Homo sapiens: one gene and its partners. The protein of the gene in region 1 interacts with the protein of each later gene in a pairwise test. Each region holds a gene or a part of one and is shown in the gene's direction. Other genes may lie near its edges.

Region 1 (3,651 bases):
CCAACATGATTTCTTTTATTATATCTTCTATCTCATAAAATAATCACAATGAGCTGGGTGCGGTGGCTCACGCCTGTAATCCCAGCACTTTGGGAGATTGAGGTGGATGGATCACCTGAGGTCAGGAGTTCGAGACCAGCCTGGCCAACATGGTGAAACCCTGTCTCTACTAAAAATACAAAAAAATTAGCCGGGTGTGGTGGCGGGCGCCAGTAATCCCTGCTAATCTAGAGGCTGAGACAGGAGAATCACTTGAACCCAGGCGGTGGAGGTTGCAGTGAGCGAAGATTAAGCCACTGCACTCCAGCCTGGGTGACAGAGTAAGACTCTGTCTCAAAAAAAAAAAAAAAAAAAAAAGAAAAAATATGATTTATACTCAGGCATAAGCTCAAGAGATAATACATGCAAAGTGCTTAACACAATTCAGAGCAGGTAGCAAGTGCTCAGCAAATATAGGCTATTGCTGAAGTGGCAGAGATGGCACTTGAGCTGTGGAATTGTTTTTTTAAAAATATTTTTATTTTTTACAAAAAATTAGCTGGGCGCAGTGATGGGCGCCTGTAGTCCCAGCTACTCAGGAGGCTGAGGCAGGAGAATGGCGTGAACCTGGGAGGCAGAGCTTGCGGTGAGCTGAGATTGTGCCACTGCACTCCAGCCTGGGTGACAGTGCAAGACTCCGTCTCAAAAAAAAAAAAAATAATTTATTTTTTAGAGATAGGGTCTCACTATGTTGCCCAGGCTAGACTCAAACTCCTGGGCTGAAGTGATCCGCCTGCCTCAGCCTCTTGAACAGCTGGAACTACAGGTGTGCACCACAGAGCCCCATTTGAGCTGTGGTTTTTTGTTTTGTTTTGTTTCTGAGACAGAGTCTCACTCTGTCGCCCAGGCTGGAGTGCAGTGGCACAATCTTGGCTCAGTGCAAGCTCCGCCTCCCGGGTTCCAGTGATTCTCCTGCCTCAGCCTCCTGAGTAGCTGGGACTACAGGTGCGTGCCACCACACCCAGCTAATTTTTGTATTTTTAGTAGAGACGGGGTTTCACCGTGTTGGTCAGGCTGGTCTCGAACTCCTAACCTCAGGTGATCCATCCACCTCGGCCTCCCAAAATGCTGGAATTACAGGCGTGAGCCACTGCACCCTGCTTGAGCTGTGGTTTTTAATGTAATTTCTCACCTGTTTTCTCTACTGTGACATGGACGCCTTCAAAGGCAGAAAGAGTCTTGACTCCCCTGTGTGATTCTCTGCGATTCCAGTGTCTGGCTGGGGCTAGGAACCGAGCAAACTTTGGTGAACATTTGCTGAATGAGTAAGCAAGCCCTGCCAATAACTGGATATACACAGTCACTTCTGCAAAGCTTAATGACTCGTCGTTAATGAGGTGTGCCAGTAGTAGTGTGCTGGGAAACATCTCTGTAAAAAACAAAGTCTTTAATGACTGAAAAAACCAAAGACACTTGTTTGTAGCCTTTCTTCCCTCCTTCCTTCCTTCTTTTCCCTTCTTTTCCCTTTCCTTCCCTCCTTCCTTTCTTTTCTTTTCTCTCCCTCTCCTCTCTTTTTCTCTTTCCCTTTTCTCCACCACCCAGGAGACGGAGGTTGTGGTGAGCCAAGATCCCGCCACTGCACTCCAGCCTGGACAAGAAGAGCAAAACTCCGTCTTAATATACATACATACATATATATATACGTGTGTGTGTGTGTATATATATGTATACATACATATATGTATACATGTGTATATATATACGTATACATACATATATACGCGTATATACGTATACATACATATATATGCGTATATACGTATACATACATATATACGCATATATATACGTATACATACATATATATACGTATACATACACACATATATACACATATGTATACATATATATACACATATGTATATACACACACACACACACACACACACACATATATATATATATATATATATATATATATATATATATATATATATATTAGCCAGGCGTAGTGGCACACGCCTGTAATCCCAGCTACTTGGGAGGCTGAGGCAGGAGAATCACTTGAACCCGGGAGGCGGAGGTTGCAGTGAGCCGAGATCACGCCACTGCACTCCAGCCTGGATGACAAAAGCGAGACTCCATCTCAAAAAAAGAAAAGAAAGAAAAAAGTATCAATTTACTTACTTGTCATATTGTATAATTATATCTAAATGGAAGTGTTACATAGTTATTTTAAGAAATGGAAATAATGTACAAATATAGAATCAAAAGTAAAGTCCCACTTTTCTCCCTCTTCCGCCTAAATCTCTCCCAGCATTGACAATGCATAACCATTTGCCGAGCGTTCTTCCCCGGACTGCATCCGTTTAGTCTACTGAGAGGCAGCTCAGCGTTCCCAAGGAGACAGATGTCTAGCTTTGCTCTTTCTGTCTGTGTGATGCTGGAGAATCGATATGCCCCTGGGCCTCCATCTCCATCTGTAAAACAAGGGCATCAGGCAAGATCGGCAGTTCTCATGTTACTGTGCGTAAGAGTCTCTCGAGACACTTGTGGCCAATGGGGAATCCAAGACCCTCAACCCGTGATTCTGAATCAGCAGGTCTTAGGCAACAGGAATCTGCATTTTGATGTGGCTGGTTCTCGCGGCATGCCTAGGAAACACTGAGGGAGAACATCTCTGAGGCCTTTTTCAGCTGCAATTTTCAAGAATTACCTTTTTTATTTTTATTTATTTATTTTTTTGAGACGGAGTCTCACTCTGTCACCCAGGCCGGAGTGCAGTGGTGCGTTCTCGGCTCACTGCAACCTCCGCCTCCCGGGTTCAAGCGATTCTCCTGCCTCAGCCTCCCGAGTACCTGGGACTACAGGCACCCGCCACCACGCCCGGCTAATTTCGTATTTATAGTAGAGATGGGGTTTCACCATATTAGCCAGGATGGTCTCAATCTCCTGACCTCATGATCCACCCACCTCAGCCTCCCAAAATGTTGGGATTACAGGCGTGAGCCACCGCGCTGGCCTGGATTACCTTTAAAAAAAAAAAATGTGGCCACACCTATAATCCCAGCACTTTGGGAGGCTGAGGCAGGCAGATCACTTGAGCCCAGAAGTTTGAGACTGGTCTAGGCAACATGGCAAAACCCCTTCTCTACAAAATTGACCAGGCACAGTGGTGCATGCCTGCAGACCCAGCTACCTGGGAGGCTGAGATGGGAGGATCACTTAAGCCCAGGAGGTGAAGGCTGCAGTGAGCCAAGATCATGCCACACTACTCCAGCCTGAGCAACAGAGCAAGACCCTCTCTCAAAAAAAAAAAAAAATTGCCAACCAGCTGCAGTGGCTCATGCCTGTAATCCCAGCATGTTGGAGGCTGAGGCACGTGAATCACTTGAGACTAGGAATTTGACAACAGCCTGGCCAACATGGTGAAACCCTGTCTCTACTAAAAATACAAAAATTAGCTGGTCGTGGTTGTACATGCCTGTAATCCCAGCTACTCCGGAGGCTGAGGCAGGAGAATCACTTGAACCCTGGAGGCAGAGGTTGCAGTGAGCCAACATCACACCAGCCTGGACGACACAGTGAGACTCTGTCTCATAAATAAATAAATAAATAAATAGTGCTAAAATACACAAAACATGAAATTTGCCCTCTTTTTCTTTTTTTCTT
Region 2 (3,651 bases), on another chromosome or scaffold:
TGGCTAACACGGTGAAACCCTGTCTCTACTAAAAATACAAAAAATTAGCCGGGCGTGGTGGTGGGCGCCTGTAGTCCCAGCTACTTGGGAGGCTGAGGCAAGAGAATGGCGTGAACCTGGGAGGCGGAGCTTGCAGTGAGCCGAGATCACGCCACTGCACTCCAGCCTGGGTGACAGAGCGAGACTCCATCTCAAAAAAAAAAAAAAAAAAAAAAGGCGGGTGCCACCATGCCCAGCTAATTTTTGTACTCTACAAGGATTTTGATTCACGTTTGAAGTTCTCTTCTGCGCCCTACCTGGCCTTTATTTCCTCCAAGCTGTTTTATTCTTGTTGTCTTGGTCTCTATGGTTCACTCTTGAAGCTTTCCTTAAATGTGGGTAGTCCATGCCTGTCCATTCATATTTAAAAGTGAAGCTCTAAGAAACCAATTGGAGACCCTGAGTGTGTGAGTAGGGCTTGGCATCTTGGTGGCCCCCTGGAGGCGATGGGGCCGGGCTGCCACTCTTTGTCGGGCATTTCTCTGGTGGCTCAGCCTCTCAGTGGCAACCCCACTGATCTTTCAACTGGAGATAGAAGGCTTCCTGCCAATGTCTTGGGTGACAAGTGGGAAAGGGTGTGGGTGTGTCACTCATCTGAATGCCAGCTTTCTTTAAATTTGTGTTTTTGCCGGGCACGGTGGCTCACGCCTGTAATCCCAGCACTTTGGGAGGCCAAGGCAGGTGGATCACCTGAGGTCAGGAATTTGAGACCAGCCTGATCAACATGGAGAAAGCCTGTATCTACTAAAAATACAAAAGTAGCTGGGCGTGGTGGTGCATGCCTGTAATCCCAGCTACTCAGGAGGCTGAGGCAGGAGAATCGCTTGAACCCGGGAGGCGGAGGTTGCGGTGAGCCAAGATCGTGCCATTGTACTCCAGCCTGGGCAACAAGAGCAAAACTCCATCTTAAAAAAAAAAAATTGTCTGTTTTCACCCTAGTGCAACCCCCACCCCGTCCAGCTGTGTCTGGGGTACCAAATGCAGGGGTGCATCTGGCTCAGCATCTCCAGAGAGTGAGTCCCAGCTTCTGCCAGGTGTCTCCTTGCCATCACTTGGCTGCATGGAGCTGGGGAGGGACCTGCTTTTTTTCTTGGACTTTATCCAGAGTCCTCTCTTCAGCTCACCCTCGCATCTCATCCAGAGGATCCCCATCAGAGCCTGCCAGGGGTCCGCCATGCAAACTGGATGCCTCTGTTGAGATCTCTGTTCTTTTTGCTGATTGCTTTCCGCCTATTTTCAAGTCTCATTGGTGGATTTACCAGACAGGAGAGGGACAAGGCGTGAGGCCCTAGCGCTCTCTGCATAACCCAGTTCCCATCTACAGTTTGCTCTCCATCTTCCAAATTATTTCCTTTTTCCTTTTTTTTTTTTTTTTTTTTTGTGACGGAGTCTCGCTCTGTCGCCCAGGCTGGAGTGCAGTGGCACGATCTCGGCTCACTGCAAGCTCCGCCTCCCGGGTTCACGCCGTTCTCCTGCCTCAGCGTCCTGAGTAGCTGGGATTACAGGCGCCCGCCACCACGCCTGGCTAATTTTTTTGTATTATTAGTAGAGACAGGGTTTCACTGTGTTAGCCAGGATGGTCTTGATCTCCTGACCTCGTGATCCACCGACCTCGGCCTCCCAAAGTGCTGGGATTACAGGCGTGAGCCACTGCGCCTGGCCTTCTTTTTCTTTCTTTTGGAGACAAGGTCTCACTCTATCCCCCAAGCTGGAGTGCAATGGTGCAATTACAGCTCACTGCACCCTCAACCTCATGGGTTCAGGTGATTCTCCCACCTCAGCATCCTGAGTACCTGGGACTACAGGCACGCACCACCTCATGTGGCTAATTTTTTGTATTTTTAGTAGAGATAGGGTTTCACCATGTTGCCCAAGCTGGTCTGAAACTCCTGGGCTCAAGCTATCTGCCTGCCTTGGCCTCCCAAAGTGCTGGGATTACAGGCGCAAGCCACCGCCCCGGCCTGTCCTTTGTCCTTTTGGGTTTATCTTCCTAAACCTTTGCTATCAATTTTGGGTGAGTTTCAGCGGGATTGTTGGTCTTCTGTGGGTAACTGGGATCCCCTCTTGGAGTCTCTGCCTTCCCAGTTCCTTTTCTCTGGAATCCTCTTCCTTCACGCTTCCCTTGAGTGGCCCACTGTCATCCTTCCTATCTCTACTCAGCTTGTCACCTCCTCAGGGAAGCCTTCCCTGACTGCTTCCCCATGTTCCATTCTGTCATCTCCATTGAACTTGGGGGGGCCTTAGACTGAGGGCTCATGTGAGCTTCCCTGTGGAAACTGTTTCCTTGATAGTGTTTATTGCAGCCTTGGATTATTTGACTTATTGATTGGTTTACTCGGTCTCTCCTGCACCCAGGGCAGCATGCCAGCACACAGTAAACATCAGCACAACCAAGCCAAGGTTTAGACGTGCAGGCCTGGGCAGCAGGGGGCTAGCAGGCTATTAAGGATGGGGTTGAGGTCTGTGGCCCATGTCTGGCCACTGAATGAATCTGCCTCAGCAAGGAGGGCAGGGCAGAGGGCCAAGGCTGGCAGGGGCTCAGTGCAGGGCGTCCAGGGCAGCTGGCATCTGACCAGCCCAGCCTCCAGCCTCCTCTCCCCCCGCTCCAGACAGACCCCGTGCGGCTGACACAGCTGTATGAGCAGGCCCGGTGGGACCTGCTGCTGGAGGAGATTGACTGCACCGAGGAGGAGATGATGGTGTTTGCCGCCCTGCAGGTACCAGGCGGGCCTGGGGGCACCAGGGCAGGTGGGAGGTGAGCCAGTCCCAGGGCAGGAAGGGCCTTCCTGAGTGGGGGCTACCTCCAGGGAAGCCCGGCCTGGGGGTACTGCTAGGGGACCAGGCTGCTGGACTCAGCCCTCCCTGGCTTCATGACCACCTAGTACCACATCAACAAGCTGTCCCAGAGCGGGGAGGTGGGGGAGCCGGCTGGCACAGACCCAGGGCTGGACGACCTGGATGTGGCCCTGAGCAACCTGGAGGTGAAGCTGGAGGGGTCGGCGCCCACAGATGTGCTGGTGAGGAGGGGCTCAGGGCAGGGGCTGGGCAGGGAGAACTGTGAGGTACCGGGTGCCCCTCTGACTCTGGTCCTCCCATAGGACAGCCTCACCACCATCCCAGAGCTCAAGGACCATCTCCGAATCTTTCGGTGAGTTGGGGGCCAGAGTAGGCAGCCCTGCTGGAGGGGTTGGTCTGCATATGGAGGGAGGGGGTGAGGCGGCCTTTCACAAACCCCAGCATCCCACGAAGGCCCCGGAAGCTGACCCTGAAGGGCTACCGCCAACACTGGGTGGTGTTCAAGGAGACCACACTGTCCTACTACAAGAGCCAGGACGAGGCCCCTGGGGACCCCATTCAGCAGCTCAACCTCAAGGGTAAGTGCACAGGGCCAGGGGCTGGGTGGGGGGATCCCCACTTGTGGGCTAGGCAGGTGAATGCTCTCACCGGCCCTGTTTCCTCCTGGAGACCGGGGAAGATGCCCTCTGTCCTGAGGTGACGGTGTGGGCTAGGATGCACTCCAGGACCTCAGGCGGCTCTTCCCCTCCCGACCTCCTAGACCACCCCTTCTCTCCCTCCAGGCTGTGAGGTGGTTCCCGATGTTAACGTCTCCGG
Region 3 (3,651 bases), on another chromosome or scaffold:
CTCAACCTCCCAGCTCAAACAATCCTCCCACCTCAGTCCTCCAAGTAGCTGGGACTTCAGGCACGCTCCACCATGCCTGGCTAATTTTCTAATTTTTTCGTAGAGATGAGGTCTCACTGTTTCCCAGGCTGGTCTCTAATGATTCTCCTGCCTTGGTCTCCCCAAAGTGCTGGGATTACAGGTGTGAGCCACTGTGCCCAGCCAAGTTCAGCTTTTTCTCAAGGGGTAAAGGATAAACCCATTTGGTTACTTGCTGGAGTAGCACTTTGGAGTTACTGAGGGCTGCCCTTAGCCACTGTGCTGGTTTTATCTCAGGGCTGCTTTCTGGAGAGCTTTACAGATATTGTCTCACAGCTGCATTTGCAAGCAGGAAATACTTCTGCTTCCACTTCTGCTTTCTCTCCTTTTTTGGTAGAGGCCCTTTTAGTCTTCTGATCCTTACCCTTCTGGGTTTAGGAAGTTTTGCTGGCAGTAACATGGACTAATGCCCTTTATATAAGATTTTGTTCCTTTGTTGAGAATTTGTTACTGGCCCAATGGCAAAGGGTTCAATAGGACTTAATAGAAATTTTTCATGAAGTCAGTTAAAGTGAGAGTAAGGCTGCCTAGCCAATGCAGGTATTACGTAGGGCAGTCATTGCATGTCTAACCACATACGTCTACCAGTTCTGACTTCTCCATTGCTGGTTTTGAGCTGGAATGATTGCAGGCAAAATTTATTAAGTTGCATATCTACACAAGCCTTTCCTTTCTTCCATCCTTCATCAATCAACAAACATTTATTAACTACTCTTTTTAAGGAAAACTACACCTTCCTGTGAGTGAAATGTGTCCCAGAACAACAGGCACTTCCTTATCCTTCTAGCAACATGGAATTAAGCATGACAGTGTTTTGATATATCCCACCATTATCCCATCACTTTACAGTTGAGGAAACTAGGTCTTAGGCTAAATAACCTTCCCAGTTAATACATAAGAAGAGAGGGGACTTGAACCGTAGGCACAATGCTATTTCTATAATTTAAGGCTGATTGTTTCCCCCTAAGGGAAAGTTTTTAAGTTTGCTTTTGGTCAGGGTGGGCATATTTTGACATAAGGCATTGTCTCATAAGGCAGTTAAGTTTCTTAGTCTTTAGAGTTCCACAGTGATACTTAAGAGCTCTCCTCTCTACCATGGTTTTATGCACAGAATGTCTGCTTTTATCAGTTTTACATATTAGATTGTGTTTAAGGTCTACTTTGAAAAAAGTTTCAATAAGCAGCAAGTGGTCAAAAGAAAAAAAAAAGTTTTGGTACTTAAAACAGTTTGAGAAACATTGCTATGAGAGATAGAGATAGAATCCAGAGTCTCTATCTTAGTGGAGTTTGGTCTGATTAGGGTAATAGACTAGGTTGTATATACATAGAAGCTGGTGATGATAGAAAAGCTGCCATTGAGCGGAGCCTAAGAAACACCACGGGTAGGAGAATGTGAGCCCATAGGAAAGAAGGGTTCTGGAGTCACCACTGTTATGTACCCGGATCACCTGTGACAAGTTCTTCTTTAATCCTCCCAGGGATAAGAAGCATGTAGACTGGGTCAAAGCTTATTTAAGTATATGGACAGAGCTGCAGGCTTACATTAAGGAGTTCCATACCACCGGACTGGCCTGGAGCAAAACGGTTAGTGAATCCTTCCTCCCTCCCTCCCTCCCTCCCACTTTCTCTCTCCAGCATGGGGTCCACAGGTTTCTTAGACTTCAGCACTACCAAAGTCTGTGAGGGAATGCTAGTTTTTTCAGTGGAAGGGAGGAAGAAAAGGAGGAGAAAGAAAGGGTAAAAAGAGTAGAGGAAGCAAGGATCAGAGGAGAAGGAATATTCAGTGGTATTCAATTTCAATAAATATGTTAGGGACAGTGATTGGTGCTGGAGCAGGAGACACACACAAATGAGTTACACTATCCCAGCCTTTAAGGAGCTTAAAAATAAGAATGCAAAACCCCAATACAAATCACCAAGCCAAATGCTATAATAAAGATACAGACTAGAGTATGAGGAAGAGAAGAGTGCTTCTCACTAGAAGAGATTGTACTTTGAAGGTATATACTCTTCTGTGAGACTTGAAAGTAGTATAGGGCAGTGAGAAGTGGGATACTACAAAAGGCACAGCTTAAACAAAATACATGCAGAGTAAATGTAGAGATTGGTCATCTCTGGCTTCAATAAGGGGAAATGATCAGAATTTTAGGAGAAAAGGCTGGAAAGGAAGGTAGGCTGAGACTTTGGGATGAGGTATTTGAGCAAGGGAGTGATAATGATTCAATTTGTCTTTAAAAGAGTCTCAGTGTATAGGTTAGGGATAAGGACTCATGCTCAGATTATGAAAGTGGTCATGGTGTTTGGGGGATAGTAGAAAAACATTTGCAGGAGATAGCACCAAGATAATAGAGATTTGATAAGGTCGAAGAAGTTGGAATCCTCAAAGAAGATTGAATAGTCAGTCTTGGATAGTAACATCTTTCACTGAAATAGGGACAAGGGGATGATTGTACAGGGAGAGGAGCGGCAGGAAATGATGAAATCAGTTTTGAATCTGTTGAATCAGAGGTACTGGTAACACACTAAGGAAGATGTCAAGTAGATTTGTGGAAATAGTTTTTAGAGCTGGAATCAGGTGAGTTCAAAGGCAAAATGTGATGGTCAAGAAATAGAACTGAGAGCTGGATCCTTGGGAAAGGGTGAGAAGGCATAAAGCCAAGTTGGGTATGGGTAGGACACATTAATCATTGCCTCAAAGGCTGTGGTGGGGACCCCATGTGCACTGGCCCATGTAGGGCACTACTGGGAATGGTACAGAGGGGAGCAGAGAGGATGATGATGTTACCTGCACTTATTGTTCCAGGGGCCTGTGGCAAAAGAACTGAGCGGACTGCCATCTGGACCCTCTGCCGGATCATGTCCTCCTCCCCCTCCACCATGCCCCCCTCCTCCCCCAGTCTCTACCATTTCATGCTCATATGAGTCTGCTTCCCGCTCATCACTGTTCGCGCAGATTAATCAGGGGGAGAGCATTACACATGGTGAGTGAGCACTTGGACACGAACAGTAGGTACAACAAGTTGTGTGGGCCAGACCCCACCAACCAGAACCGTCTGTAAACTACAACCCTGGCTTGTGTGGTGGAGACTCGTTTGGTGTGTCCTGTTCCTTTAAGGGACGGCAAAGCTGGCTTAAATGGAAATTGAAAATGATGATCACAGTTGGAGGAAGCCATCTGCCCCATGGGAAAGTGACTTAATATTAGGTAGCATATATAGAGGACCCTCTTGTGCCAAGGCACAGAGCTGGCGGTTTTCCCCAGAGCTTTTTCCGTGGCACCACATGGCCTCTGGGAAGGCATTGTGTTAGGGAGTTAACTTCCTCAGAAGATGCATACTGGTTACATGGAAAATTTGCATGAGAGTGACCTAATGTTGGTATAAAGTAGATACCCTTAACACAGCTGGTGGAAGTCTGAGTTGTCCAGCCACTTCTAGGAATCTATGATCATAGTAGCTAAAAATGGTGTAACAACCTAAATCCAACTGTAAGAGAAATGGCTAACTACCACATGTCCTCTTGATGAAATGTTTTTTATTTTTTTATTTTTTTTGAGACGGAGTTTTGCTCGTT

Evidence for each region.
Region 2: the proteins of NLRP12 (region 1) and FERMT3 interact in a two-hybrid assay, tested with the Homo sapiens proteins (one large-scale study listed by IntAct).
Region 3: the proteins of NLRP12 (region 1) and CAP1 interact in a two-hybrid assay, tested with the Homo sapiens proteins (one large-scale study listed by IntAct).

The regions. Positions count from the first base shown.
Region 1 is NC_000019.10:53,817,738-53,821,388, reverse strand, and holds part of NLRP12 (NACHT, LRR and PYD domains-containing protein 12), read left to right. Parts: intron 1-2,296; exon of another isoform or gene 2,297-2,505; intron 2,506-3,651. UniProt on the Homo sapiens protein: Plays an essential role as an potent mitigator of inflammation. Primarily expressed in dendritic cells and macrophages, inhibits both canonical and non-canonical NF-kappa-B and ERK activation pathways.
Region 2 is NC_000011.10:64,216,603-64,220,253, forward strand, and holds part of FERMT3 (fermitin family homolog 3 short isoform), read left to right. Parts: intron 1-2,648; coding exon 2,649-2,756; intron 2,757-2,921; coding exon 2,922-3,056; intron 3,057-3,137; coding exon 3,138-3,187; intron 3,188-3,276; coding exon of another isoform or gene 3,277-3,288; coding exon 3,289-3,413; intron 3,414-3,617; coding exon 3,618-3,651. UniProt on the Homo sapiens protein: Plays a central role in cell adhesion in hematopoietic cells. Acts by activating the integrin beta-1-3 (ITGB1, ITGB2 and ITGB3). Required for integrin-mediated platelet adhesion and leukocyte adhesion to endothelial cells.
Region 3 is NC_000001.11:40,064,659-40,068,309, forward strand, and holds part of CAP1 (adenylyl cyclase-associated protein 1), read left to right. Parts: intron 1-1,556; coding exon 1,557-1,662; intron 1,663-2,881; coding exon 2,882-3,059; intron 3,060-3,651. UniProt on the Homo sapiens protein: Directly regulates filament dynamics and has been implicated in a number of complex developmental and morphological processes, including mRNA localization and the establishment of cell polarity.